5 linked regions of the Homo sapiens genome follow. The protein of the gene in region 3 purifies or fractionates together with the protein of the main gene of each other region. This does not show direct contact. Each region holds a gene or a part of one and is shown on either strand. Other genes may lie near its edges.

Region 1 (5,980 bases), on a different chromosome or scaffold from region 3:
TTACTGTAGAGGTCCAGGCCCAGAGAAACAAAACACGAGGGTTATGGGACAAATGCAGAGGATTCTGACTGAAGTTGAGTTTGTAGGTTCCCAGAACTTTTTTTTTTTTTTTTTTTTTTTGAGACGTAGTCTCGCTCTGTCGCTTGCGCTGGAGCGCAGTAGCGCGATTTCGGCTCACCGCAACCTCCGCCTCCCGGGTTCCAGGGATTCTCCTGCCTCAGCCTCCCGAGTAGCTGGGATTACAGGCGCATGCCACCATGCCCAGCTACTTTATTTTTTAGTAGAGACGAGGTTTCACCATATTGGCCAAGCCGGTCTCGAACTCCTGACCTCGTGATCCCCTCGCCTCGGCCTCCCAAAGTGCTGGGATTACAGGCATGAGCCACCGTGCCCGGCCCCAGAACATTTAAAAATGCAAGGAATGCCACAAAGGAGAGCTGCAAAAATTGTGCTATGTTCAGCTCTGTGACTGCGTATCCTCATCTAGAGATAATGTCAACATCCTGTTGTGGAAGGGAGGCTAAAAATGGCCCTCCTTGCCCCCTCCCCAGGCCTTGAGCCCATCACTCTGCTGGGAGTAAATGAGAAGACAGGCAAAGGCAAGGAGGAGCCACACACGCCGCAAAGATGGTGGTTGTCTCTAATATTTATTTGTCTGGTTATAAAATTAATATGTGAGGAGCATTGGATTTGGTGAGAACGTTTTGAACCCTAGCTGTCACGTGCCACCTGCGGGATCTAGACCAGTGACTTCTCAGAACTGCCATTTCCTCATCTGGTAGACAGGATGGTAAGCCCTGTCTTGCTCACTCCACGTATGGCAGTGCAGATGAAATGAGATCACAGAGGGGAAGCAATTGGCAGGCTGGAAAGTGCTGACAAATGGAAGGGGTTGTGTCACCACCCTCAGCTGAGGTAGTACCAAGGTCCAAGCTCCTGCCCCTCCCCCTCCCCAGCCCCTAAATACACACACGAATGGAGGGCCACTTGCAGCCTTGGTCTGATGGAATTGGGGGCAAGGCCACACATCTTCCTCAAGCTTGGCCAGATGGGGCCTCACTGGGGCCCTTCCAGAATCGGGCATCGGCTGTGGCCAGCTGTGTGAGGATCTCCTCCAACTCGGGTCCATCCTCTGGGAAACGCTCAGAGAAGGATCGGATGAGGCCAGCAGCTGACGCCTCGTATTCCAGAAGCTGCACGTCTGAGCCTGGGGAGGAGATGGAGAGAAAACAGCAGGGAAAGGTCTGAATAGGGAAACTGAATCATCATAAAAATCTTAATAATCACAATTACAGCAGCAGCTGTTTCTTACTGAGCTCTGCCAAAAAAACCTGTGCTCTACGTTTTAGGTTAATTACTTAATTTACTCTTTACAGTAACCCTGTGAGGAAGGAAATACTACAGGGGGAGTATTAAATGCATTGCTGCTTTCGTTCATTCAGTCAATCAAATAAAGATTTAGGCTGGGCATGGTGGCTCATGCCTGTAATCCTAGCACCTTGGTAGGCTGAGGTGGGAGGATCACCTGAGGTCAGGAGTTTGAGACCAGCTTGGCCAACATGATGAAACACTGTTTATACTAAACATACAAAAAAATTAGCTGGGCGTGGTGGCATGAGCCTGTAGTCCCAGCTACTCGGGAGGCTGAGGCTGGAGAATTGCTTGAACCCGGGTGGCAGAGGTTGCGGTGAGCAGAGATCGTGCCACTGCACTCCAGCCTGGGTGACAGTGAGATTCCACCTCAAAATAAATAAATAAATAAATAAATAATAAAAGACACCAGGTGCCACACTAGGTGAAACAGATACAGTCCTTGGTGTCCTGAAGCTCACAATTCAGCAACGACTTCATCTGTCTACTGTGGGACCTGGGGCAAGTGTTGCAACCTCCCAAGCTTCAGTCTCCTCATCTGTAAAGGAGCTGCAGTGATGACATAGTCACACATCGAGGGGGTGCTCAACAAATGCTAGCCACCATGGCATCATTATCTCCGAACCTGTTTACTGATTTATTAAATGGGCTGTTCTGAGGGTCCCCTGAATACCCCCGGGAAGCACTGCCCTCAAACACACTTCAACTGCTCTACCCTCTCTGTGCACCTTGTCGTGTTCCATGACATCACAAGCTGCACAGCAGCAAAGAGCACAAGCTCTGGAGTTCAAGTTCTGGCTCTGCCACCCAACAGCTTTGTGACCGCAGGCAAATACACAGCCCCTCTGTGCCTCATTTTCCAGATGAAAAATGAGGATAATAACCATTTCTCTCTGGGTTGTTAGGAGTTAAGCCATAGAAAGCTTTTACAGCGACCTGGCTGGGTGTGGTGGCTCACACCTGTAATGCCAGCACTTTGGGAGGCTGAGGCGGGTGGATCACTTGAGGTCAGGAGTTCGAGATTAGCCTGGCCAACATGGTGAAACCCCATCTCTACTAAAAATACAAAATTAGCTGGGCATGGTGGTGGGTGCCTCTAATCCCAGCTTTTTGGGAGGCTGAGGCCGGAGAATCATTTGACTCCGGAGGTGGAGGTTGCAGTGAGCCGAGATCTCACCACTGCCTGCGGGACAGAGTGAGACTCCACCTCAAAAAAAAAAAAAAAAACTTTTTACAGTGCACCACCATCACAACCTTTGAAAATCCAACCTGTTCTTCAGATCTAGTGGGAACCACCCCTTCCTCCCCAGAACGTTCCCGGATACTCTTGAAGATGGATGCGATCTTCCCTCCTCTAAGTGTTCAGAGTTCTGTTTATATGTTTTGGCCACTCATTAACACTTCCCTTGTATGATTATGATGATGATTATTATTATTATTTTTTTTTTTAGATGGAGTCTCGCTCTGTCACCCAGGCTGGAGTGCAGTGACGCAATCTTGGCTCACTGCAAGCTCCGCCTCCCGGGTTCAGGTCATTCTCCTGCCTCAGTCTCCTGAGTAGCTGGGACTACAGGCGCCTGCAACCATGCCTGGCTAATTTTTTGTATTTTTAGTAGAGACGGGGTTTCACCGTGTTAGCCAGGACGGTCTCGATCTCCTGACCTTGTGATCCACCTGCCTCAGCCTCCCAAAGTGCTGGGATTACAGGTGTGAGTCACCGCGCCCGGCCCCCTTGTATGATTATTTATCTCCATATCTTATCATCCCCAGTGAGCTGTGATCACCTCCGGATCCCTAGTGGCTCCCCCATGGCTCGCACAGGGCTGGACATATCAAAGCAATTGAGAGTATTGTCCATGTGGCTGGCATGATTTATTAATGCACTCATTTGACAGTCACTGAGCAACTCCAGTGTGCCAGGCTGTGCATGAGGCACTGGGGTATGCTGCTCCTCCCATCATGAGAAGTGACCACCAAGAAAATGGGCAAGCGTGATGGGCGCTAGAAGAAAATGAAACTGGGTAGCAGAACAGAGAGGGACCGAAGCAGTTACTTTAGGTGGAGGGGTCAGAGACAACCTCTCTCACAGGGTGCCGTTTTACAAGGAGCGGAAGGACAAAAAGAACCAGACAGGCAAAGATCTGGAGGAAGATCATGCCAAGCAGCAAGAACAGCTTATTCAAAGGCTGTAGGAGTGGACCCAGCTCAGTGGGTAGAAGAAACAGAAAGGTCGGGAGACTGGAGTACAGTGAGCCAGAGAAGGGGTGGTGAGGCTGGCAAGGGTTGGGGCCAAATCCCAGGAAGCCTCTGGAGAGCATGGAAAAGCATCTAGAATGAGCGTCTTAATAAATGCTTTTTCCGGCTGGGCATGGTGGCTCACGCCTGTAATCCCAGCACTTTGGGAGGCCGAGGAGGGTGGATCACCTGAGGTCAGGAGTTCGAGACCAGCCTGGCCAACATGGCAAAACCCTGTCTCTACTAAAAATACAAAAATTAGCCGGGCATGGCGGCACGCGCCTGTAATCCCAGCTACTCAGGAAGCTGAGGCAGGAGAATCGCTTGAACCCGGGAGGCAGAGATTGCAGTGGGCCAAGATCGAGCCACTGCACTCCAGCCTGGGCAACAAGAGGGAAACTCCGTCTCAGAAATAAATAAAATAAAATAGCCGGGTATGGTGGCTCACGCCTGTAATCCCAGCACTTTGGGAGGCTGAGGTGGGTAGATCACTTGAGGTCAGGAGTTCGAGACCAGCCTAGCCAACATAGTAAAACCCCGTCTCTACTAAAAAAAATACAAAAATTAGCTGGGTGTGGTGGCGGGCGCCTGTTATACCAGCTACTCGGGAGACTGGGGCAGGAGAATCGCTTGAACCCAGAGGCGGAGGTTGCAATGAGCCGAGATTGTGTCACTACACTCCAGCCTAGGCGACAGAGTGAGACTCCGTCTCAAAAAAAACAAAAACAAAAACAAAAACAAAACCAACCCAAAAACCAAATAAATAAATGCTTTTTCCTCACCAATAATAGGTAGTGACTTTTTGCAAATATTATTCTATGTAACCCTCACAACTGCCCAGGACAATGCTTTTTTTTTTTTTTTTTTTTTAAAGAGTTGAGGTCTTGCTCTGTAGCATTGAACTCCTGGGCTCAAGCAATCCTCCTACCTCACTCTTTCAAGTAGCTGGGACTATAGGCAGGGGCCACCATGCCTGACTCAACCACTCTTAATTTGACTCTTGGCTCCTCCACTAAAAAGCCATAAGCCTTGTGCAAATTACTCTCTGTGCCTCAGTTTCCTTACCTGTAAAATGGGGATAACAACAATACCTACCTTATTGGGCTACTGCAAGGATTTAAAAGGTTAATCCCCAGAAAGCACTTAGAAACTCTAAGAAGGAATTCAGGTTCACGATAACATCAGCAAGCAGTCCACACTGCCTTTATGAATGAAGACACCAAAGTCTAGAAATGTCAGGTGACTAGGCCAAAGTCACAGGGTGGTTCTGAAGCTGGTGCTCTAACCTCTCCATAACACACATCATCTTAGGTATCTCAAGTGACAAGTAGCAGGAAAGATGAGTCAAGGGGTGAGAGGAAAGTGAAGGCAGTAAGGGGCTGGAACCCCAGGGGGTCTGAATACGAAAGATACAAGCACCGTGTGGCCAAGGCTCTGGAATTGTCGCTTGAGAAGGAAGCGGGATGATGCAGCTGTTGATCACCATCCTGGATGTGACCGAGTCCACTGTCCCCTGGGTTTCACTAGGCTTGCTGGATCCCAGCTCCCTCCTCACCTGACCCCCAGCCTGGGTACCCAACAGGTCTAATTCTTTGGTATGAACGCCTGGCTTCCCCCTAAGTCTGCATGTTCTGCTATCCCCTGCTCTGGTGGTCTTCTTCAAATCTTCTGTCACTGTCTTACAACTTGCATGACTGTGTGTGTGTCGGGGGGGTGGTGGGTGGTGACAGATACCAAGATAAGGGCCTGAGGTTTGGCATGGGAAGGACCTTGGCAGAAAGGGAAGGGCCATCCCAGGCTGGGTTAGGTTCTTATTGAGCCCTGGGATGGGTTCTTACTGCTTCCCAGAGGGCCCTGTGTGGTGCTCATCAAGGGAGCTCAAGAGCTCCCTCATTACCTCATTACCTTCAAGGCGAGTGTTGGGCTGAACAATGAGCTTCCGAGATTCCTTACGCAGCAGCACCGTGTCCCTGAGGGTGAGGAAGCACTCGGGGGGCGCATCAGTGACTGTTGCATACCCCTCGTACAGGGCCCGCCCTCCGGCCACATCCCCTGTGGACTTCAGCACCTGTGAGAAGGATGGAGTAAATGTCTAGGATGGGCAGTTACCCGGTGTCCACAGGGCTCTGCCATAGGCCACAGCTGATTGTGGTCAGCCCTGGACAGTCTGTGCTATGGTTTGAATGTGTCCCCTCCAAAATTCTGGTGTTGAAACTTATGGTTAAGTTTCAACTTAACCATTAAGGCTCCTTCCTCTTGAATGGGATTAAGGCCCTTATAAAAGAGGCTTCAGGCTGGGTGTGGTGGCTCACACCTGTAATCTTAGTACCTTGGGAGGAGGAGGCAGGGGATCACTTGAGCCCAGGAGTTTGAG
Region 2 (7,405 bases), on a different chromosome or scaffold from region 3:
GAGTAAGACCCTATCTTAAATAAATAAATAAATAAAATTGAAATATGTGAAATTTGGACATTTGCTAATATGAATGTGAGACTGAAAGGCTTGTCTGTACTTGTTGTATTGTACTCTGCAGTTAGAACTTAAGATAACAAAGTCAAGATGGAACAGTGGCACAGGGCTATAAGTTTCCGGTACTTGGTTCAGTTCCCATGATCCAAAGTCTGGTCCTCAGAGTACACATTCAGAAACTCAATTCTGTAAGGTGAGTATCATGCTCAGAGATGGTAAGTCTTTGGGAAAATGTATCATCTCAGCTACACTCACCAGAGACTAAAGCATTTTTAACCTAAGTTCTGATTTATTAAATAACAATGGAGCCTATTATTTTCCAAAATGTCACTAGATAAGAATAGAATCAAAATAAAGGGAATTTTGAAAAATGTTTATCTAGGCCAGTGGTTCTTAACTAGGGGCAATTTTGCAGCCCTCCTCTACACCAACCCCTCCTTCCATGGACATTTGGCAATGTCTAGAGACGTTTTGGGTATCTAAGCTTGTTAGGGGTACCACTGGCATCTAGCTAGTGGAGGCCAGGGATGTTACGAAACATCCTACAATGCACAGGGTAGGCCTCCACGACAAAGAATCATCTGGCCCCAAATGTCAACAGTGCCGAGGTTGAGAAACCCTGTTCTAGTCTGTGGAAAAGCCACAAGGACACTTCTCAAGTAGCATATTTGATACCCAAGAGATTATATTATTTTCTATGTATGGTGTCTTTTCTAGTCTCTCTAAAACTATCTTTGCTATGGATTGAATGTTTGTGTTCCCCAGAATTCAAACATTGAACCCTAAATCCTTAACGTGATGGTATTTGGAGATGGAGACTTTGGAAGATAATTACACCATGATGGTGGAGTCCATGTGAATGGGACTAGTGCCCTTACAATAAGATGAAGGAACCAGAGCTCTCCTCACCCCACCCACCAAGTGAGACTACAGCAAGAAGGTATTCCTCTGCAAACGAGGAAAAGGGCTCTCAGCAGGAACAGATTTCATCAGCACCTTGATCTTGGACTTCCCAGACTTTTAGAATGGTGAGGAATAAATTTCTGTTAAGCTGGAACTGACTAAAACAATCTCTTTTCTTACAGGCTTCAAGTATATTTGACTTTTTCTCATTTTTATTGCATCCCTTTATTGCCTCCTTAAGATTATATTCCTACTCATTTTAGTTCAAACCAAGAGTCCTATATCCTCTCAGCCACACATTTACACATAATTTTTGGACTATTTCTTTGTGTACTTAATATTCATCCATTTTTATTGGTAGTGCCATTTTTTAAAATGTCAACCTTAATTTCTGATTTCAGCCTTCTTTGCTTCCATGTCCAAATAATAATGATAATTATATATATTCTTAATATTTTTAAGCAATCGACTTTTGTGGATCTATTAACATTTTATTTATGCTGGGTAAAAGAAATTTTAGTTCTGCTTATTCTCACATTGTATTCACACAAGAACCCTTTAGTAAAGAACTTCACACTTACAGTTCTTTGGCTAGTCTGCACCTCACAGCAGTCCACTTATTAGGCAAATATATCATTTAATCAATTATTTCTCTTTGTTCAAACATCAGTTATAAAGAACTTGCAATTTAGGTATTTATTCTGTTTCAGTTTTGAAACTGAAGAAAATCCCCTTTTCAATGATTTATACTTAAAGATAGTAAAAAGAAAGTTTAAAACAATTTACTTCAATGCTTTCTCAAAATAAAAACATTATTTTGATGAAACATTATTTTCAGTCTAAGTTCCAATTGATCCACAGGTTCAGTCCACAGGTTAATTTAGTCCAAAGATCACTATGGCAAAATGGGCCTGAGCCACACAATAGATTCTGGCAGGTAATCTCTTGTGTGGCAGCTCATCCATACTTAAGTCAGCTCCCATAGCTACACAATTTGCAGGGCCCAATTCCAGACACAAACGTGGGGCCCTGGTTCAACACTTACTGAGAGAAAATGTAGCGTCCTTCTGTTCTGGGGGCCGGGTAATAGCACAGGTTGCAGGCCCATGAGGCCAGCCCCAACTATCAGATTGTGTATTTACAATGTCAGTCTAACCGTTGCTGAAAAATACTTAGCTCTGTTGTAATCAGATTTAATTTCTCAAGAGGCAAAGTACACTCAACAGTTTGCTTAAATCAGAGAGACCAAAAGGAAAGATTTGCTGTAAATTATCAACTAGCAAATCTTAGTCAGTTCAACTTAATTTTTATTGAGGGAAGAAGGGAGAAAACAGAAAACTGATGGAGTTCCCACTGCGTGTCGGCCACTGGAGATTTCAAAGGTTTCTTGTTTAACTCAAGCTACCAAGTAGGTGACGTGGATAGTCTTGGGACAGAGGAGTTGAGGGAGTTGAAATTAGGCCCTAGTTTCTACATAAGTGACACGGAAACCCTCTGCACGAGTTAAGCGAAGCTACATCTCAAGTTTATTAATGCCTCGGGTTCTTGCTGCTGGCTCTGGGAAGAGTCTGAGCACGCACAGCAGACTGATCCCCGACAAGGTGACAGGGACTAACCTAACGCCCTCCTCGTTGGTCCTAGTAACCACACAGAGCAGAAACGCGGGCGAAGGCAGGAGTTGGAGGGGGCGCCCACGCGGAGGCTGCCGGGAAGTGCAATGTGCAAAGGCGGCGGGGCCATGGAGACTGAACTGGAGAAGAGCGGGTTCTCGGAGTTAAAAGCGAGAGTGAGTGGGACCGGAGGGGCGGGGCATCATATGGGCGGGGCTGAGGCGAGGCCCCGGCGGCCATCTTGAGCCCCGCCTTTTACTTCGGCCCGCTTCTTCTGGTCACTCCGCCACCGTAGGTAAGACTGGGTTCGGGTAGAGGCCTGGACGTTGTCAGCCTTCCTGCGGCTGCGGCACGGCTAGGCGTGATCGGGGCGGACGCCGAGTCCTGCGGTGCAGGTATCCGCAGGCACGAGCGCAGAGACGGCGACCCTGGGCCTTGGGCGCCACCATCCATGACAGGAGGCCAAGGACCTTTTCCCGTGACCCGGAGCCTCGCCTCTAATCCCTTTTCCTTCTCTGAGCCTCCAACCTAGTGTAACCCGGGGCGAGCGCCCGTTTACCTACTGCCCGCTACATTTGTACAGCTTTTTCCTGTTCAGAAAGACTTTCCTAGACCCGCAGCCACCGCGCGAAAATGTGAAGTAGATGTGTACGCATTTTAAGGAGGGAGCTGGCCTCAACGCGTTACTAGCGGCCGCCGGCGCCTGGTTCGGGGGAGTGTGGACCTGCTGCTCTAGGCAGCGTCCGCGTCGGGGCACGAGCCAATGGCGCGGTCAGGAGCACTCACCTGATGGTGCCGAGGGGAGCACGTGTCTTTGGAGTTTGACAAAATCTGTTCGGGTCGTAAAATGCTCTCAGAGCGCTGTGGGGGACTGGAAGTCATTTCTGATGGGGTCATTAGGGAAATGGGATTGAGCGCACCTGGAAGGAGAGGGCATTCAGGTTGCAGGAAAAATAATAGCTCATGTTTGTGTGTGTGGTAGAAGCAGCATTTTAAGCACTACGTGAATTAACTCATTTAATTCCCAGAGCAACCCTATCAAATTGATATATATTACTGTATACCCATTTTGCAGATGGGCAAATGAGGCATAGATTAGCTTGCCCAGTGTCATGTAGTAATAAGTGGTGAAGTCAGGGTTTGAACCCGGAGGGTCTGGCCCCAAAACCTGCTCTGAAACCATTGTACCGTGGCATTGAGTAAAGCCACCCGATAGCAACATCCAGGCCATCCTAGAATTATGCATAGTTGAGTTTAACTAACAAAATAGGGAGTGAGACCAGAAAAATAATCTGGGACCAAATTATAGACCATATTTAGAGCCATGTGAAGGTGTTTGGCGTTTATAGATGCTATATTTTTTTTAAAAAATTTTCCCCAGAGTTTAATAGAAATCCTTACCTAGGCAAGCCATGTGAATTTTTATGAAGGAAAAGAGACCCAGCCTAGGCAGCATGGCAAAACCTCCTCTACAAAAAATTACCTGGGCATGGTGGTGCCACCTGTGGTCCCAACTACTCCAGAGGCTGAGGCGGGAGGATCACCTGAGCCCGGGGGCCGAGATGATTGCAGTGAGCCGAGATCAGGCCACTGCACTCCAATCTGGGCCACAGAGTTTGACCCTGTCTCAAAAAAAAAAAAAAGAAGAAAAAAAAGACTGTGTTTGCACACAGGTAGAGTGTGACTGAAGTTTATATGGAGTTTTATTCATCTATTTTTTCAGTGATCCTGCATGGTTTTAATTTTATGAAATTTTAATGGCATTAAACTTGAAGAAAATTGTACAATTAACATGGTCTTCCATTTCAGTGACTTTCTGGTTCTCAGCGACTGGCCTAACAGCGAAAGGGATTAGTAGTCTCCACCTGCAGCAGCCAGGGGGTGATGAGGCAGTTCTCATCTGCTCATTATTGTGAGCTGGCGAACTGCGTTTTTACATATGACTAATGGATACTTAACACTACTGAAATACACACTTAGGAATGGTTAAGATAGTAAATATTATGTATGTGTTTTTATCACAGTTTTTAAAATACTAAATAAAAATGACTAACAATTCCACGTAGGCCGTATTAGGCTGCAGATGAGCTGTTGGTAGGGATCCGTTGACCAGTAAATTAAGTGGATTAAAACCCTAGGCTTTCATGCAGGATTGATCGTAGTGGGATGTATTAGGAAGAAAGGAAGAGGCTAAGTTTTAATTTCTTATATATAATTAGGATGATGGCAGTGGGAATTCAAAAAGAAGGTAACTTTGAGGCATCTCAAATGTAGATTAGGCAAGACAGGCATGAGTCTGAAAAAGAGAGGCAATGAAAAGAGGAATGGTTTGAAGGTGAGATGCAGAAGCTTAATTTTAGGTGTGGTAAGTTTTAATAGCTGGTGACATGTCTTGGTAGAAGAGTCCAGCAAGAAATGTCATTATGGGTACTAATGCTTGAGAAAGATTGGTTATAGAGATGCAGATTTAGATTATTTCACCCAGAAAATGTAGTTGAAATTTAGGGAATGAGGTTTAGGGAAAGAGTGTGAAGAAAAAAGAAAAGGGAGGTGGGAGGAGACAGAGTGAAAGGGAAGAAGCCAGATCCTGAGTTTTCACTGAGAAGAGGATTTGAACAACACAGTGGTGGTCAACAGCAGTTATTGGAACTGTAGATTGTTGGTTTTGGGAACACCTGTCTAGGTTGTTAAGAGCCAGTGGAATAGGACATCCTGGAAATGAAGAAACATCAAAATCCAAGGAATCTGAGAGAATGGGAACAAAAAAACACATGTAGAGATTTATGGAAAACTTGAGACACAGGGGAAGAAGGATAAAAATAGAACTCAGATTTCTGGAGGTGGATGACATTTAACTTTAATAAGTAAAGGGCCCTGTCTCTACAAAAAATTAAAAAAAAAAATATTCCAGTGTGGTACGCACCTGTAGTCCTAGCTGCTCAGGAGGCTGAGGTAGGAGAACACTTGAAGCTTGGAGTTCTAGGTTACACTGAGTCATGATTATGCAACTGTACTACAACCTGGGCCACACAGCCAAGACCCCATCTCCAAAAAATAAAAAATAAAGGGAAGAACAGTAAGGTTTGACCTTTAGGGGAATGGATGTATTATGCACTGAGAGACCCTTTCTTCTCCAAAGAATGTTGATGTTCACTAACATTTGGGAAAAATTGTGTAACTCCCACTGGCACTGTGAAATTGTTTTTCTGTTTTTGTTGTTGTTGTTGTTGTTGTTGTTTTTTGGAGGGGAAGGAGGAAGGGTGTTGTTTGGTTTTTTGGTATTCCACCCTACTCTGTCACCCTATTTCTCCCACAAAATCTGTTCTAGAACCTAAATATATATTTGTTCTAGAGCCTAAATGAAATCTACCAGATAAGTGACATGATATATACTATGTAAGTTTCCATATATATTTTTCTTACTGAATATCAGTCACTTCATCGTTCATAAGCCCACTTTTCTTATACATCCTTTCTAGTCACCCTAGTAGTAGTCCTTCAGTCCTCATCTCTTCCCTTCTTTCTCCCCATGTTACAAGTTCGACTTACAACTGAGCCAGATAGATCCATCTTCCTCTACTTACCTAGTCCCCACTCTTATTTTCTTCACTCAGGAGTTGACTACATCTCATGCTTCGAAATTACACTTGAAAACTTTGTTTATTGATTTAAAAAGATAAAAAACTTTCATAGTACTTTTACTTCAGCAGATGGTTTTGACCAAGTACCAACAAGCTTTATGGCAAAATAGGTATTAAGGTGGCCTGTGGCAAATAATTAGATTATGGGCAATTAAGGTAATTAAGTGGTGATGTGGTATCCCATCAGGGTGTACAGTCATTTACCTCAAAAGAAGAAAACATCTCTATTGAGAATGCATATGCATATAAAAGCTCTGTATAACCTTTGCTGTGAAAAGTATATCCCATTTGTAAACCATTGGTGTTTTTTTCAGAATCGCCTACCATTTGGTGCAAGCAAAAAGCAATCAGCAATTGGACAGGTAAACTTGTTTTATTGTTTATATGTTACTCTGAACATTGAATGAAAATACCACTAATAGCTTGTTTTAAAACGTGCTATTTTTCACATAGAAAAATTCTATTGAAAAATATAACCACCTATTATAATGTATCAGATATCATAGTATATCACAGTATGTCATATCTAGTTCTTAGTTTATGTCATATTTCTTGTTAAGCCTAACATATTTTTTTGATTTGTAATTAAAGATAGTTTCTAAAATGGTGGGTAGAAAAAATACTTTAAAAGCTTTGTTTTTTAAAAAATATTCTACCAACTTTTAAAAAGTGTTTTAATCTTGTTTCTTCTGGCCAAATGAAAAGCATTTGATTTTGAATTTTAAGAGCAGAGAAAACTGACAACTTGAGGTTTATTAAAATAGACGAATAGCAAAGATACAGACTCCTATGTACCAGATACGTGCTCAGTGTACCATCTTTTGCAAAGTGGATATAGTCCTTTCTAAGTTTAAGAAAATCTGGTTTCCTTGTGGAATAATGGAGCAAATAAATTTTATTTGTTGGTCTCATATATATGTATTAATATATTAAAATTAGTATCTCTCTCTATAAGTTCATTATTTAAGATAGGATTGTTAACAGTAGCTAAAGTTAATATTCAGTAACTAATAACATCTCATGGGAGTTTATTGTTTAAGAATTAATCTTTTATAGATTAAAAGCATAAAACTGAGCAGATGGTAATTTCTTTGTGTACAGTTGTAATATCATAATTCTATAGAATCAGTTATCTTAAAGTGTCTTAAAAAATGAGTATTTAAAGAACCTCTAGAGAGTCAGGACAGCATAGCA
Region 3 (6,618 bases):
ATTTTATTATTATTATTATTATTTTATTTTTTAATTTATTTTTTTGAGACGGAGTCTCACTCTGTCGCCCAGGCTGGAGTGCAGTGGTGCAATCTCGGCTCACTGCAAGCTCCGCCTCCTGGGTTCATGCCATTCTCCTGCCTCAGTCTCCCAAGTAGCTGGGACTACAGGCGCCCGCCACCACGCCCAGCTAATTTTTTGTATTTTTAGTAGAGACGGGGTTTCATCGTATTAGCCAGGATGGTCTCGATCTCCTGACCTCGTGATCCACCCACCTCAGCCTCCCAAAGTGCTGGGATTACAGGCGTGAACCACCACACCTGGCCCCAACTTAAGATTTTAATTGACTCTCTGGAGCAGGCAGGTGTCTTTGATTTGATGGGGCTGTTTAAGTCTGCGTCACTATTGTGCTGCCAGTCGCCCACCCTGGGGAGTGGAACTTGCCTGCAGTAGCACCGTTCTGGTGTTGAAGACAGGAAGCAGGGTGAGGGAACCCTGTGGGTGGAGGGGATTTCCCAGACAAGGATCAGAAAGACAAAGCCCATGATGTCACTGGAATCGATTGTGCTGCTGAGTGGAAGATTTCTATAAACTATAGGTTTGCTCCAACTCTGTGCCTGCCCCCCAACCCCAACACCTAATTACCTGCTTTATCCAGGAGTTTGCACAACATCCACGCAGTCACTGAAGTCAGCTCACTGGGCTTGGCTATCACAGTGTTCCCTGCAGCCATCGCTGGAGCTATCTTCCAGGTCAGCAAGTAGAGTGGCAAATTCCAGGGGCTGATCAGACCAGCTAAGGGATGAGAGCAGAAGCACTGCCTGTGACGGCATACCCCTCTGAGGTGGACTGGCCAAGTGGGGTTATTAACGCAAAACTCCTTCATGCTGCAGAAAACTTAGCTTACTCTTCTAACTTCTTCCCAAGCTTTGCTTATTTGTAGCCACTTTCAGGGAAATAATTCTAAAATATATTCCAAGCAACTGTATCTTTTAAAACAGAGTAAAGTCAATATGATTTCCCCATTTCTTGGCAGTTCATGATTATGAACAACAGCAATATAAACTCCAGAGCTAAAGAGTTGTCACCTATCATATACCCAAAGAAATATAAATCATTCTATTATAAAGATACATGCACGCGTATGTTCATTGCAGCACTTTGCTATTCACAATAGCAATAGCAAAGACATGGAATCAACTCAAATGCTCATCAATAATGGATTGGATAAGAATATGTGGTACATATACACAATGGAATACAATGCAGCCATAAAAAGGAACGAGATCATGTCCTTTGCAGGCACATGGATGAAGGTGGAAGCCATTATCCTTAGCAAAGTAACACAGAAACAGAAAACCAAACACCTGCATGTTCTCACTTATAAGTGGGAGCTGAACAATGAGAACACATGGACACAGGGAAAGGAACAACACACAGCAGGCCCTGTCAGGGGAGAGTCGGGGGGAAGAGCATTAGGATAAAGAGCAAATGCATGCTGGGCTTAATAGCTAGGTGATGGGTTGATAGGTGCAGCAAACCACCATGGCACACGTTTACCTATGTAACAAACCTGCACGTCCTGCACGTGTACCCTGGAACTTCAAAAAAAAATAAAAAATAAAAAAACAGTTGTCACCTGTCACTAAACAGTTCCAGAATGTGACGCATTTTGAGATTTATAGACTGAGCTTTACTTTTTCAAAAATGTCTCCTTCCCCATTATTTTAACGGTCTGGCTGTTATTTCTTCTAACATGTTTCTTTACCTTTACTTCAAATCTGTCATGGGTTGAGACATAAAATCTCAAGCTTTATATAATTATTCATAAAATAGGGGCCAATGAGTTCTGAGTGTTCCATGTGAGGGCCCTCCTATCAGTAAAGCCAATAACCTTTGGTGCATGGACTGTGACATCCATTTTGGCTATTTAGAATATTTTTAAATAAAAATTCTCTCTAGATTGTCACTTGTATCCTGACCAGATAGATTTGCTGGATGAGTAACGTAACCAGCAGCTAGAATGTGTCTCCATGCAATATTCTGAACCTATCCAGGTTTCCAATCACAAAACAAACAAATATAAAAATCTACCTTCTGAAAGGAAATTGATTCACCTTATTTTATACTCTTCCCTCAAGCCTGTGCTATGAAAGTAAATGCATCTTTTATATTATTAAATTTCCCACTGAAAAATCCATTCTTTAGGGGATAAAAATATTTTTGCAGCAAAATATATTAGCACACTTCCTAGGAGGAGGTAGAGCTTTCCACAATGCCTTGAAAACATAATTTCTGAAGGTTTCAAGTAACCAAAGCAATGAGATGTCCCAATTGTTTTCCTTTTAGCTTATATTCATAAAATGTAATAAGCTAAAAAGATGATTTTTTTCTCCGAGGAAACAGTGACATCTGGTGGAAGGTTTTAGTCATCACAGACATTTATTTATACGTTCTTCCAAAGGTCAAGAGGCAAAGGAATGCATGAAGTAAGATAATTCTCAGTAGAGGCTTATTTATCACACACCTGGCACCATACTACATGCCCTACACTTATTAATTTATTTAATGTACATAAATAGTTCTTTCTTTTTTTTTTCTTTTGAGACAGAGTCTCGATCTATCACCCAGGCTGGAGTGCAGTGGCACCATCTCAGCTCACTGCAACCTCCGACTCCCAGGTTCAAGTGATTCTCCTGCCTCAGCCTCCCAAGTAGCTGGGACTACAGATGCATGCCACCACGCCCGGCTGGGTTTTTTTGTTTTGTTTTGTTTTGTTTTTTTGAGACCGAGTCTCACTCTTGTCGCCCAGGCTGGAGTGCAATGGCACAATCTCAGCTCACTGCAACCTCGGCCTCCTGGGTTCAAGCAATTCTCCCTGCCTCAGCCTCCCAAGTAGCTGGGATTACAAGTGCCCGCCACCACATCCAGCTAACTTTTTGTATTTTTAGTAGAGATGGGGTTTCGCCATGTTGGCCAGGCTGGTCTCGAACTCCTGACCTCAGGCGATCCGCCAATCTTGGCCTCCCAAAGTGCTGGTATTACAGGCATGAGCCACCGCGCCCGGTGAATTTTTGTATTTTTAGTAGAGACGGGGTTTCACCATGGTGGCCAGGCTGATCGAATTCCTGACCTCAGATGATCCTTCTGCCTCAGCCTCTCAAAGTGCTGGGATTACAGGCGTGAGCCACTGCGCCCAGCCTGATTTTTCCTTTTTTAAATATAAGTAGAAAAAAAAATCCTGGCATGTGAATTTACATATTTACTCTTAGCATCATTCTTTTCCCTATGATTTTCCAGATAAGTCATGAACATGAGGCCTGGCGTGGTGGCTCACGCCTGTAATCCCAGCACTTGGGGAGGCCGAGGCGGGAGGATAACTTGAGGTCAGGAGTTTGAGATCAGCCTGGCCAACATGGGTGAAACCCTGTTTCTACTAAAAACACAAAAATTAGCCGGTGTGGTAGCTCGCACCTGTGGTCCCAGGTACTCAGGAGGCTGAGACTAGAGAATCACTAGAATCCGGGAAGCAGAGGTTGCAGTGAGCCGAGATCATGCCACTGCACTCCAGCCTGGGCGACAGAGCAAGACGCTGTCTAAAAAGAAAAGCAGGGAATTTGACACAAAGAAAATAAACTAGAAATAGATCTTTGAGGCCAATGGATTTTAGAAAAGAAAAATATCAGCTCTTCCTTTTCTTTAACCTGTTCCTTGAGGACAATGCCATAGAATGTTGTGAGCATCTGCAAGCATAACCGGGAGGTGGGCTCTCACTGAACAGCACTCACCGACTCCCACCGGGGCCCGCACCGTGTAGTGCATGCAGCCCAGGTGGTCCATCTGCGTGCACTCTGACGTGTGGTGCAGGCTGGAGGAAGCGAAGAACCTGAAGTTCTGCACAGACCGGGGAATGTCCATGGTTCTTGCCAGTGCTAAGGTTTTCCCTGTAAGAAGCAAACAACATAAAGCACTATCAGCTAATGGGGACACTCTATCCATCAGCTTCCACTGCCCACGCGTCCCAACTCACACTGAAACAGCCTGGATTCCTTCTAGCCCGGGGCAGGCATTCCTTGACCTCACAAAGACTTGATCATGGTTTGATAAAACCATACAATATTTAGGTATAAGGTTGGAAACTGAGGTGGGGGGTTAAAATTGAGTCAATAATCTTTGTTCTGTGAACTGAACACATCATTCTCATCACCAGTTTGCCAGATGCTACCACTTCACCCACACAAACTCTTGCAATTCAAAATCACCAGGCTTTGTACCTGCGACAAAGGCATTGAAATACGGGTGTTAGGACAGTTGTAATTGCACAGCACAAAACGAAACACTTTTATACACATGTAATGTGTATTTCATGACCTCCCCACACATGGTAGAGTCATCAGAAGAGCGGCTGGGAATGCCCTGGCACGGGATGCTGTGTGGCACCTGCTTGCCCATCACATGCCCTGCACGTCCTAGCTCCTGGATGGAACAGAAAGAGAAACAGAAGCTTACCTAGACTGCTACTGAGTTCTCTTTAGCGATGCAGGGAGCCTGGCCAGGAACACCAGCAGAGAACTATTTTCTTTTTAAGGGCTTGGACTCAGGCTGCTTTCTGATTTTTGATTGGTTTATGGCACACATGTAATTTTTAAAACTCTTGGCTTATCTTAACAGATATTCTTGCAAAAATTTACAAATATTTACTCCATTACTCTGACCTCTGGGAAAGAGTGGGAAAAAAAAATGAGATGTGTCGGGAGTGGAATGGTGACTGACATATCAGAAAACATCCTAAATAATCTGACTGCATAACTGCTTTTCAAATTATCTTTGCTTTGAAATTCTCTGCTTAGAATGAGTAGGAGACTGCATGATCAGCCCTAGTTCTTCATCTCTCCCTATATCCATGCCCTTTGCTGTATATATTTGCACTTCCTTTCATCCAATGAACAGAGTATATTTCTTTGCCCCTCAGCTTTTGGATCCAGCCATGTGACTTTCTCTGGCCATCTGAATGAGACAGGGCTGGGCCAGCCACAAGTCCTGGCCTTCCCAGGCCTGGAGCAGGGGAGGGTTTGCTCTCCACTTCTACTATTGCCAGAGGAGCAGGCACATGGGCTGGCCTGATGGCCCCAAGAGGGATAACATGAATAATCAGAGATGCCCTGAGTCCCATGTTACAGTTAAGAGGCAACTCTCACCTTGGTCTTTAGACTCGGCCTGGGCAAACTCCTCCAGGGACTGCTCCAGCAAATCCGCCACCTGGTTCAGGACCCGTGAGCGCTCCTGGGGGCTGCGGGATGACCAGCTGGGAAAGGCTTCTCTGGCGGCCTTGACCGCGGCTTCGATCTTTGAGGAGCAAATGGGAGAAAGGGTCACCTTAAAGCTGTTAGTCCTTGGGGGATGGACAAAACCAGAATCCTCAGGTCTCCACACACCTCATTTTTGTTTTGTTTTGTTTTGTTTTTTAGATGGATTCTCACTCTGTAGCCCAGCCTGGAGGGCAGTGGCGCAATTTTGGCTCACTGCAACCTCTGCCTCCGGGGTTCAAGTGATTCTCCCACCTCAGCCTCCTGAGCAGCTGGGATTACAGGCATGTGCCACCATGCCCAGCTAATTTTTGTATTTTTTAGTAGAAAGGGGGTTTCACCATGCTGACCAGGCCGGTCTTGAGTTCCTGAATACAAGTGAACCACTCGCCTCGGCCTCCCAAAGTGCTGGGATTACAGGTGTGAGCCACTGCACCTGGCCCACCCTAATTTTGAATATTCAACATGTCCCAGTGCTGAGCCACCCACAAAGTAGATGACACAGGTGTTTACATGACCAGCAAAGGAGGGGTACCATAGAAACAAAGAAACGCGCTCCATTTCAACCAATGCATCCTGAATGTAGTAATCAGATCATTAGAAAGAAGCTATTTGAATTTTAACATATGTACATTTTCAATCACTTCAGAAACTAGAATTTTTAAAAATATTGTGGGCCAGGAGTGGTGGCTCATGCCTGTAATCTTAGCACTTAGGGAGGCTGGGTTGGGAGGATCGCTTGAGCCCAGGAGTTTGAGACCAGCCTGGTCAACATAGTGAGACCCTGTCTCTACACAAAGGTTTTTTAAAAAATTAGTTGGGCGTTGTGGTGCATGCCTGTAGTCCCAGCTACTCAGGAGGCTAAGGTGGGAGGATTACTTGAGCCCAGGAGGTAGAAGCTGTAGTGAGCTGTAATTGTGCCACTGCACTCCAGCCTAGGTGACAGAGTAAGACCCTGTCTCAAAAAAATGTATATGTTATACATATATACTATATATATATAGTATATATAGTATGTATATATTATATATACAGTAGAAGAAGAAAATTAATCTAGATATGTGGAATCTCTAAAGCTTCTAACTCAGCTCTGACATATCTTATAAAGTCTGAAATTTTGGGTGAAATCACATCCTCAGATTGTCATTTTCACTTGAAATGACTAATTATATTTATAATTTATTGACTAATTTTTATATAAGGGAATATGCTAAATACTTTACACAAATTATTTTTATTTAAGTCCTTTCAAAATTCTATAACATGAGTATTGCTATGCCCATTTTACAGATGAGAAAACTGAGACATAGAA
Region 4 (3,500 bases), on a different chromosome or scaffold from region 3:
AGAACTTACATTTGAGTCAAATGGCCATAATGTATTATTTAAGTATACATTTTTCAGATAGCTAAAAGTTGGGATTCAGTGTTTAACAGTTTACGCTGACAAAAATATTCCTTAAAAACATTGTATTTCTCCTGGCAAATTACTTACTGAAGAGATAGAGTACAGCTATTAAGAAACAGCTTAGCTTTGGGTAAATAACAATGGTTGCTCATTTTTGGTTGTTTGTTCCTCTCTCTCCAAATAAAATGAAAGATACAGCTATGATTTCCTCTAATAGAGTTGAGCATTTTTTTTTTTAAAGGCAGGATATTTACAAAGCAAAATAGTTACATCTCAACTCCTGTATAACATTCAGTCTTTTTTTTTTTTTTTTTTTTTTTTTTTGAGACGGAGTTTCGCTCTGTCGCCCAGGCTGGAGTGCAGTGGCGCGATCTCGACTCACTGCAAGCTCCGCCTCCCGGGTTCACGCCATTCTCCTGCCTCAGCCTCCTGTGTAGCTGGGACTACAGGCACGCGCCACCATGCCCGGCTAATTTTTGTATTTTTTAGTAGAGACGGGGTTTCACCGTGTTAGCCAGGATGGTCTCGATCTCCTGACCTCGTGATCCGCCCGTCTGGGCCTCCCAAAGTGCTGGGATTACAGCAGTCTTAAGATTATTATACCGTATTGCTTTTTTTTAAACCAGTTACCATATTATCAGATTAGCATTATTGAATCAACAGGCTATTAACAGGCCTTTACTTGTCCTTTGACTATTAAGACTACTGTGGTATTACAATGACAACCTGGGACTTTTCTTGTTGCTCTGTTCTTTGATGTCCTTTGCCTGCCCTACCACTTGCTACCATTTCCTTTCTTCCTTCTTTTTCCATTTGTGCCATCTCCTATGTAATCTGTAGATTGACAGTCTGTGCCTAAAGGATTCCTCCTTATTTCTTCAGAAAACTTACATAACTCATGTAAAATTACAGAATATAGTTTTAATTTAGGGCAATAAGCTCAATATATTTCAGAAATAATTTTAAAACATCAACCTGAATTTAAAGTCATATCAAGGTTCAATCCAAGTCACAAATAGTGACTGGCACAATCACAGACAAAAAATGTTTCAAGTCGCTACAACACTATTATCTGATGCTGACAAAGTTTCATATGTTCCCAGTGTTATCTCTATTTCTTGTATCTTAAAGCATATGAAACAAGGTCTTAAATGATTTTTCCCACCACTGTTATCTTAAGTTATGGAACACTTTCTTGAGTGGCAAACAAGGATATTATGATCCAGTTATACCACTCTTTGAGAATCAATTTACTGAAATACAGCTTAGAAATCTAAGAGGAATGAATAGGTATGATGCCCTTTATCCTTATTCAAATGTAATCCAAATTTTAGCAAGCATCAACTACAGAAAACTCAAACAGTACATAGCTATAACAAAGTTTTGTTGTCCTAGTAAGGCCTCAATTATTCTTCTCTTTATTTTTACTTGTAATTACTATGAAGGAGGGTTTCAGTGATTCTTACAGCAAATATGAGTGTTTGCATAAAAATTAAATGGCCTAAAATTACTGAGGTTTAAGTTTTTATCTTGATCATCTTTTTATTTTCTATATCTTTTATTATACTATACTATAAATTAGTGTTCTTTATCTTCCTCCAATACATTTTACTCTAATTTGATCTTTGTAAGCTACCAGAGGCCAAGGAACTAAACCACCAAGGTTAGTATCTTTCTAAAATAAAACAGAAAGAGTAACTTGTTAGTAGCTGGACTTCTTGATATCTATTTCTGGTTGGTTAGAGGTAGCTTCCTTGCTGCTCTCCACCACCTTCACCCTAGTTGTGGATATTGAATCAGACACCTTTGGAAAACTGAGGCATTACTGAAAAAACTAAAAATTTCTTTTGATATTATAGCATAGGCTCATTTCTACAGACTAAGAGACTAGAACCCAAGTAGTTTATGTGACAAGCTTAAGAGAAGTACATTGGAAAAAAGAACAGATGGCTAGGCAACAACTCAGACCTAGGTTAATTAAATCTCCAAATTACAAAATAATTAAAAAAAAAAAAAAGAACTTGGCTATTATTTATTTATTTAGAGACAAGGTCTGTCACCCAGGCTGGAGTGCAGTGGTACGATGTTGGCTCACTGCAACCTCTGCCTCCTGGGTTTAAGCAGTCCTCCCACCTCAGCCTCCTGAGTAGGTGGGACTATAGGGGTGTGTCACCATGCCCAGCTAATTTTTGTATTTTCTATAGAGACATAGTTTCACCATGTTGCCTAGGCTGGTCTCCAACTCCTGGGCTCAAGTGATCTGCCTGCCTCAGCCTTCCAAAGTGCTGGGATTATAGGCGTGAGCTAATGCACCCAGCCTGGTTCGTGTTTCAAACTTTAGATTTTGTAATATGAAGACAAAAGCATATGAAGTTGAAAACTTTGACAAAATTAAAGTTGTGCTAATAGTTGTAGCTTTTGAGGAGTTTACAAAAATATTCCTGAGGCAGCAATCATTAATACAACTTTTTAGTAAAAACATTAACCATTCTTCTACCCCTGAATGGAGCAAAAGCACCCCTAATTTATAAGTCATAGTTACCCAAGAAATGTTATACAGAGCTAATAAAACTCTACTTGTACAGACTTACAACGGGACCGAGGCTCCCAAAGTAGGTATATATAAAAGAAAATGTACGATTATAAAAAACACAATGGTCAATCACAACAAACTTTTTGAAGGCATGTATGTGTCTTTAAGGACAAGAAATAAGGTTTAGCCATCTTAATATTACTTACAGCATTTTAGCATAGTGCCTTAATAGGAATTCAATTGAATGGCCAATTAATGAAATTTTTAATGGATTTAAGTAATAAAAATGCCTACTTGAAAAATTTGCTAAGCGAATATATTAACACTGAAAAATTTTACTCTTAGGAACTTCTAAAAAATTTGGTTCTTTTTAATCTCAAAAATAAATGTTTATTTTTACTAAATTTAGATTACTTTTGCTGTTAATCACTATTACTGGCCAAATAGTCTACATGTTTTATTCCAAGTAATGATTTAGGTCTTGGATGTTGATACTACGATGCTGTTTCCAATTTCTCAGCCTCCCAAATCAGTTTTTAAGATAGATGTTATTCAGTAGGAGAGAAGGTAATAAAAATCACATTTTTACTTACCATCAAATGCTTTAAATTGCCAGTTAGGAGTCTGAGATTTTCATAAGCGACTTAAAAAAAACAATCCATAGAAACCATTGTCACTTTCCCTCAAAGTTTTAATTGGGCACTATTAGTTCTACCGTAGTCCAATCCCTGTTTCTTATTCCTAACAAGTGAGTTCCTAAGGTCCTTATCTATAAATTTAATTGAGTCAAACTGAATCTGTTAACTTGGAACATTCACCTTTGTATTATTTGGGAAGAAATGTTTTTTAAACAATTGTAAAGATCACATAAAAAGGTTCAGATTATCATGTGAACAAATTGGCTTTA
Region 5 (6,391 bases), on a different chromosome or scaffold from region 3:
GGCCTTGAGTGTGTATGTGCAGCCCTGTGTGCCCTCAGCCCCAGGTGTGCACAGGCCGCTGGTGGCCAGATCTAGGGCTCCCTTCTCTAACATGGAGGGAGGAGGGGCCTCCCTTTCCTTCGCCTGCTCTGCTCATCACCTCCAGCTCCTGCAGCCTTTTTCCCAGAGACATTTCCATCCTCTCATCTCTTGTCCCTGTCTCTGGGATAACATCACCCAGGTGGGCCCTGGGATTCCAGGGAGGGGGTGTGGGTGGGGTCCTAGCCCCGCCTACTTGGCGTGGCCATGGTGATGCTCTCGGCCAAGTTCATCTGGGAGCACTTCCTTGGGGCTGTGCGCTAGCCTGCCTGTGGGGGCTCTGCACCAAGCTCGTCTTCCTGCACTGCTCCCCGGAAACCATGATCAAGTGGACCCAGAGCACCCACCTGCCCCCCAGCACCGCCAGCCGCCCCATGACCCTGTTGCCAGGGCTCTGGTGGGGCCTGGGGAAGCAGCCGTTGCCTCCTAGAGCCCTTTGGCCCCAGGGAAAGCCAGGCCTCTGGCTCACCCCCGTGGGCCCCCCGACGCCGGCAGGCAGGCCAGGCCAGCCAGCAGCTGGTGCCCAGCTGGGTCCCTGGTCCTGAGGCCGCCTTTGTGCCTGCACAAGGGAGACTCAGTTCCTCCCCTGCTCCCTGACCCTGCATCCTGTGTCCATGCGGGCGCACCCCTGGTAGCAGGAGCAGACGGTGCCAGCTGCCCTGGAGAAGGAGCCAGCCACCTCAGGACCTCTGCCTCTTCTGGGTGTCTCAGGGGAGGCCGGCAAGCGGGGCCTACTGCAGCACCATTAAGCAAGCTAATGACCCGTGAAGGCTCCTAACCCCGGCTGCAGCCGCCCCTGCTCAGGAGCTCCGGCTCCGTCTCCCCGGCTGCTGCCCACAATTGCTGTCATTGTGTTGGGTGACAGTTTCCTCAGACAGGGCCAGGACCTTGGAGCCAGTTCTTGCCTTTTCAGGCCCAGCCGGGGCTGTGTACACAGCAGGCAGTTAATAAATATTTGCTTGCGATCAGGCCCAGAAAGTCACCTTGATTTCCAGGGCTGTGGGGGCACATGGATTCTGGGGACCCTTGGGGTGGGGTGGCCAGGGGCTCAGGACACAGCCTAGGGCCACGTGTCCCACAGATCTGCAGCCAGGTCCTCACCCTCGGCCCTAGCTGAAGAGAGGTGGGCACTGTCCCCTTCCCTGTGGGGCCTCAGACCCAATCCCTTCCTGGGGGGCCCCAGGCAGCCCTGCTGCGACTGACAGCAAAGGGGATGTATGGCAGGGACAAGGTCCTGGCCTGTACTGTCACCCAAGCCAGTGGGAGCCTGGCTCCTGGGTGCCTTGGACCCGCCTCACCTGCTTTTCCTGGAGCCCAGGTTCAGGGGTTCCCTGAATCCTGGCGGGGCTCCCGGGAGATCCGAATTGGCTTCGGGGCCCTGCCCTTTATCACCTAGGACAGTGCCCAGGGGCACGGAAGCACAGTCGACCTCACACAGCGCAGGCTCCAGGACCCTCGAGAGACAGAACGGCCTCCGTGCAGGCTGCCGGGCTGTAGAGAGTTCAGGAGCCCACAGCACTTCCACCTGGAGTCTGTGCTGTGTGCACCCAGAAAATCAAAATGGTCAGGAAGGCCAGGCCTAGGCCCAGCGGCCCCCTGTCCTCCCCAGGTCCTGGGCTCCTGTCATCAACACTGGGTTGACCAGCTGGGGCTCAAAGCCAGAGCCGGTCTGGGAGAAGCAGGAGGCAGCCCTGCACTACATTCCCTAGATGGGCTCCAGGACCCGTTTCTAAAATGGAGGGGGAGAAAGAAGAACGAGGCCAGGTGAGGGGGCGGTGTGACTGTATTTAATTGAACCTCAAGTGAATTCTGAGAGGCCGGAGTGTGACTTCTCTTGCCCTATAAATCAGGTCCCCTGCAGCAAGTCAGCTCCATCTTTCACAGGGCTGGGCTGGCTGGATGCGCTGGCAGCCCCGGCTGGAGTAAGAGCCTGGCTGTCAGCCACGCAGGTGCCCTGCACAGGACCTGGGGCTGGGACAGGGCACCAGGCAGGCAGGAGGCCTCACCCCGGGGTGCAGAAGGCCCCAGGGGTAGCAGTTTACAGAAGATGTCTCAGTCCTGTAAGTAACAAACAGAAACAAGCCCCAGCGCTTCCCGGTCCCCTCCCCGTGGCCCGCACCAAACCCTAAGCTGTCTCCTAAAACTTCAGCTGTTTCCACCACCACGCTGACGACCAGAAAGACAAACCAAAACCCATATGAAGGGCAATCTTTCAATTGCTTAAAATTAATCAGTGCAAAGTGAGGTAAAAGATCCCCGTTTGTCAGGGCCGAGGCAGGAGGCTCACACAAGCCTGCGTCTCTTGGAGTCCCTCCCCAGGTCCCCCTCCTCGACATCCACCTCACAGCCCAGTGGGGACACCAGGTTCAGCAGAGGGTCCTCAGAGGCACGGCCGAAGAGCGCCAGCAGGAGGGCCACACCGAAGCCTGTGGCTCGCTCACCCTGCAAGCAAAGGGCAGGACACAGACTCTGGGCGTGGGGCTGCAGCACAGGAGGGGTTCCTGGGGACCCCTCACCTCCTGGGTCCCCTCCACGTGCCCCACAGTCCCCTTCTCAGGAAGGAGATCCTGAGCACCAGCCGGAGCCCAGAGCCTTCCATGCTGCTGGCTGGACACGTTCAGGGCTGGCAGGCCAGGCGTAGGCAGGGGGCAAGGCCCTGTGTGCTCTGCCTTCACCCCGGGAGCTCCTCAGGGTGGGGATGGGTGAGACAGGGCCCAGGATCCCCTATGGAGGACAGGCTGGCTGGGGAAGGGTCGCACACAGCAGCCACTCTGTTCCCAGGGAGGATGAGACCTGGGGGTGGTGGGGACAGCGGGCTGGAAGCTGGGTCACAGACAGAAGTTTCTGATGAGCTCTGCCAGCAGCTCCAGAGCCAGAGGGGCGCTGTTTGGACAAGCGGGCGGGAGCAGCCAGGGCCAGTGGGGAGGGGAGACACTCACAGCATGCACCGGTGCAGCAATGTCCAGGTGGACCCAGACTCCGGGCCAGTCGAAGCCGATGTGTGAGGCGATGAAGAGGCCAGCACAGGAGCTGGGGCTGTTGTCTCGGTCCTAGGGAGGCCAGGAGGACACAGTGCCTGTGGGTTGCTCCGGCCGGGCCCTCTCCACCCTGCCCCATCGCCTGTCACTATTGCTGTCTGCAAGGAGCTCGGGGTGGCTGGGAGGGAGCGTGTGGGGAGGCAGCAGAAGCTGGGCTGGGAGGGCCTTGACCATGAGCTAAGGAGTCTGCCCCCACCATAGGCCAAGGGGGAAGCCAGCAAAGGGCCTGATGGGGCAACTGAGCCAGACCCAAGACTGGGGGAGAAACCCTTGGCTGTGTGGCAGGGAAGCCAGTGAGTGGCCCACGCTGTCTGGGATGACTCCTGTGCCCTGACGCCTGCCTCTCAAGCCCTCGTCTGCACTGTGGCTGCTTCTGGGGGGCCCCAGCTCCCTGGGTGCACCAGCACCCTGAAGGCAGGGCTCCGCCTGCCCGGCTCCACCCATGTGGCAGGCTCCAGGTTCGAGGCTCCAAACCTACCGCCACTGAGTTCTTCATGTCCGCCACAGCTGAGGTGAACTCGCTGAAGTGCAGCTCGGGGCAGTAGACCAGCGGGTGCACCAGGTCCCCACACTTCCTGCCCGCCTTCACACAGGCGGCCTCCCACTCAGCGCTGTTGGTGAGCACCGCGGCGTGGTACTTCCCTGTGGCAATGCCCTGGGCGGGCAGGAACCCGGGAAGCGTGTGGACGGGACGGCAGGAGAGAAACACCCAAGGCAAAAGAGGGACCGGGAGGCAGACAGAGAAATAAGGGAGCCAGAAAAGAGACGGTTGAGAAAAAAAGAAAAAACACAGGCAGAAAGGACCATGGCCATGAAGCACACAGGAGGCGGTTCCCGGCTCTGCATCCAGCCTGGGCCTCGGTACTGCCCACACCAAGCTTGACGGGCAGCTCCTCCTGCCTCCTCGTGCCCAGTTATGAAAACTTCCTGACGGCAGCCCCCACGCGCTGCCTTCCCCACCTTGAGGTCAAGAGTGGGGTGGGGTTCCCTGGGACTACAGCTAAGGGGTGGATCCAGGGAGCACTCACCTGAGCCCCGGTCAGGGTGGCCATGTCCAGGATGATGTCGGCCCCCAGGTCCTTGCAAGCATAGGACACGCCATCTGCCAGCACCAGCCTGCCCTCGGCATCCGTGTTGTTGATTTCCACCGTCCTGGGGCATGGTAGAGATCCCCGCTCAGGGACGGGATTTCCTGGGACACTGGCATGAGCCCCTTTGAAACTGGGGAGACCCCATTTGGAGCTGCCCATCCCTGTGGCTCCCCGAACCCCAACACGTTCCCTGAATGGGAAGGCCGGGATGCCCCCAGTCCCTACAGCAATGCAGTGCCTGGAGCAAAGGGCTTCCAGGTGACATCCCTGCCCCGCTGCTCTGGAGAGCCAGAGACCAGCCATTTGGCTCTCCCATGCCTCAGTTTCTTCTTCTGTAAAGTGGGTGGCATGAACCGGCTGGGCTGGCCTTCAGCACACTGTGCCTGGCACCCGGCAGATGGGGAGGAAGAGCAGGAGATGCGGGGAGGCGCCCACTCAGGCACCAGCTCATGGGGCTGGGGAGAGGGCTCTTCTCTTTTGAATTCTGGAGCCACTTGCTCCTCAGCTGCCAGCTCAGCTTTGACTTTCCAGGGTCAATCTCAAGGGGGAGATGCAGGAGGTGTCCCCGAGCAGGGAATCTGGGGGTCAGAGCTTCACACACCCAAAGATTTCAGGCCTAAATTTTGGAAAGACCTGTCCTGGTAATGCAGGGTAGACCACGAGCTCCTGGGCCAGGCACTGCACGGGAGCCTAGCACCTCATCCAGGTGCCATGGGCCCCTCAACGTGAGGTGCGCCTGCTACCAAAGCTCCCCAGCCCTCCGGGAAGCAAGGAGCCTGCTGCCCAGGGGACCCCAACGCTGAGTGCCCTCCCGATATGCCTGGAGTGAGCTGGCATTGCAGGCCGGGAAGGGTCGCGAGTTCCAACAGTGGGCAGGAAGGAGTGGGAGGGCCAGACGTACTTCCCTGAGTACAGCAGGTGGATGTCATCTGGCCTTGTCGCATTGGGCCCCACCGAGTTCTCAGCCAAGCAGAACACAGCGTGGAGGTTGTCTTTGAAACCCTGGAGGGAGAAGTGGGCAGAGGCTCCAGTTGTAGGTCATAGGTTTGGGGAGGGGGGAGGACGAGCTGGGGGTTCTCAGACCCACAGACAGCAGGAGAGAGAGAGATGGCTCCAAGTTGCAGGGACCAAAGCTCGCCCTCCCTGCCATCCCGGGTACAGTCCTGGCAGATCCCAAGGCCAAGGCTCACCACTGGGGTTTCCTAGCCTCCCCTGGCAGAGGCCACCCGCCGCAGTGGATGAGCCTGGGCATGGGCTGGGCTGTGGGACTCTTGGACTGCATGGGCTGGGCAGTCATGAAGCCTCGCCAACCTGTGCCGACAGAAGGTGGCCAGCAGCCGCGTCCCCTCAATACACACACACACACACGTACACACACAGAGGGGCAGGAAGAGCTCAGCCTCGTGGAAGTTTAGGTGTGAAGTTATGGCTTTCTGATGCCAAAAGTCATTTGTTCACTGAGAAATGTGTGGCCAACAGATGGTGGCAGTTCCTGCCCTGCACAGGTTCTAAGGGTGCCCCCTGACCCCGAAGCGGGCCACACCCGGGCAGCAATGTCAAATGGAGTAGAGCTCCCAGACCCCTGTCCCTGCCCTTCCTCTGCTCCCGCAGACGAATCTTTAACCAGAATACATCCTCCTAGCATGGAGCATGCCTCGAGAGCGCGGACACACAGCTCTATAGGATCCAGCGTCTTTCTCATCTCCTGGAACAGCCGACTCTTCCACCACGGGTGCAGAGCCCTCACCAAAGGCAAACACTTGGGATGGTGGGGCAGGGGCAGCCAGCAGGGCAAGGAGTGGCCAGTGGCAGGAGCTGCAGCAGTGGTGCTGGGCATGGCAGCTGCGAGTCCCTGAGACCTCCCTGGGTCCCCGCTCAGTCCTTGAGCCTCACAGATGGCCCCGCACCCCCACGCAGCACAGGGGAAAGAACCCCACCAGCCTCAGGGTGATGATATCGGAGCCACCTGTCAGCTCCACAAGGGCCCCAAGTCCCCCGCTCCCACTCTCGCAGCCCAGCCTGTGTCAGGGACACGGGGCAGGGGCTTCAGGACCCTCAGCCTCCTCCTCTCAGAGCTCCTCCCCAGATACCCCAGCACTGACATTCCATCTGTGTGTACAGTGACCACGGCCTGTCCCTGTGCTGAGGCCTCCTGTGGTCATTCCAGGGAGAAGTGGGTGTTTA

Evidence for each region.
Region 1: the proteins of ALDH8A1 (region 3) and DPP3 fractionate together in Homo sapiens (co-fractionation; one large-scale study listed by BioGRID). This does not show direct contact.
Region 2: the proteins of ALDH8A1 (region 3) and ESD fractionate together in Homo sapiens (co-fractionation; one large-scale study listed by BioGRID). This does not show direct contact.
Region 4: the proteins of ALDH8A1 (region 3) and SMC4 purify together in Homo sapiens (affinity purification with mass spectrometry, with the first as the bait; one large-scale study listed by BioGRID). This does not show direct contact.
Region 5: the proteins of ALDH8A1 (region 3) and NPEPL1 fractionate together in Homo sapiens (co-fractionation; one large-scale study listed by BioGRID). This does not show direct contact.

What each region holds. Positions count from the first base shown.
Region 1 is NC_000011.10:66,504,306-66,510,285, reverse strand, and holds the end of DPP3 (dipeptidyl peptidase 3), read right to left. Parts: intron 5,675-5,980; coding exon 5,512-5,674; intron 1,208-5,511; coding exon 1,035-1,207; 3' UTR 629-1,034; downstream 1-628. UniProt on the Homo sapiens protein: Cleaves and degrades bioactive peptides, including angiotensin, Leu-enkephalin and Met-enkephalin. Also cleaves Arg-Arg-beta-naphthylamide (in vitro).
Region 2 is NC_000013.11:46,792,565-46,799,969, reverse strand, and holds the start of ESD (S-formylglutathione hydrolase), read left to right. Parts: upstream 1-2,808; 5' UTR 2,809-2,865; intron 2,866-6,525; 5' UTR 6,526-6,573; intron 6,574-7,405.
Region 3 is NC_000006.12:134,938,621-134,945,238, forward strand, and holds part of ALDH8A1 (2-aminomuconic semialdehyde dehydrogenase), read right to left. Parts: intron 5,347-6,618; coding exon 5,199-5,346; intron 3,945-5,198; coding exon 3,789-3,944; intron 796-3,788; coding exon 646-795; intron 1-645. UniProt on the Homo sapiens protein: Catalyzes the NAD-dependent oxidation of 2-aminomuconic semialdehyde of the kynurenine metabolic pathway in L-tryptophan degradation.
Region 4 is NC_000003.12:160,406,150-160,409,649, reverse strand, and holds part of SMC4 (structural maintenance of chromosomes protein 4), read right to left. Parts: intron 1-3,500. UniProt on the Homo sapiens protein: Central component of the condensin complex, a complex required for conversion of interphase chromatin into mitotic-like condense chromosomes.
Region 5 is NC_000020.11:58,711,297-58,717,687, reverse strand, and holds the end of NPEPL1 (probable aminopeptidase NPEPL1), read right to left. Parts: intron 5,210-6,391; coding exon 5,109-5,209; intron 4,269-5,108; coding exon 4,145-4,268; intron 3,772-4,144; coding exon 3,595-3,771; intron 3,129-3,594; coding exon 3,018-3,128; intron 2,521-3,017; coding exon 2,362-2,520; 3' UTR 1,844-2,361; downstream 1-1,843. Other genes in the region: uncharacterized protein LOC124904942, read right to left, coding at 1-93. UniProt on the Homo sapiens protein: Probably catalyzes the removal of unsubstituted N-terminal amino acids from various peptides.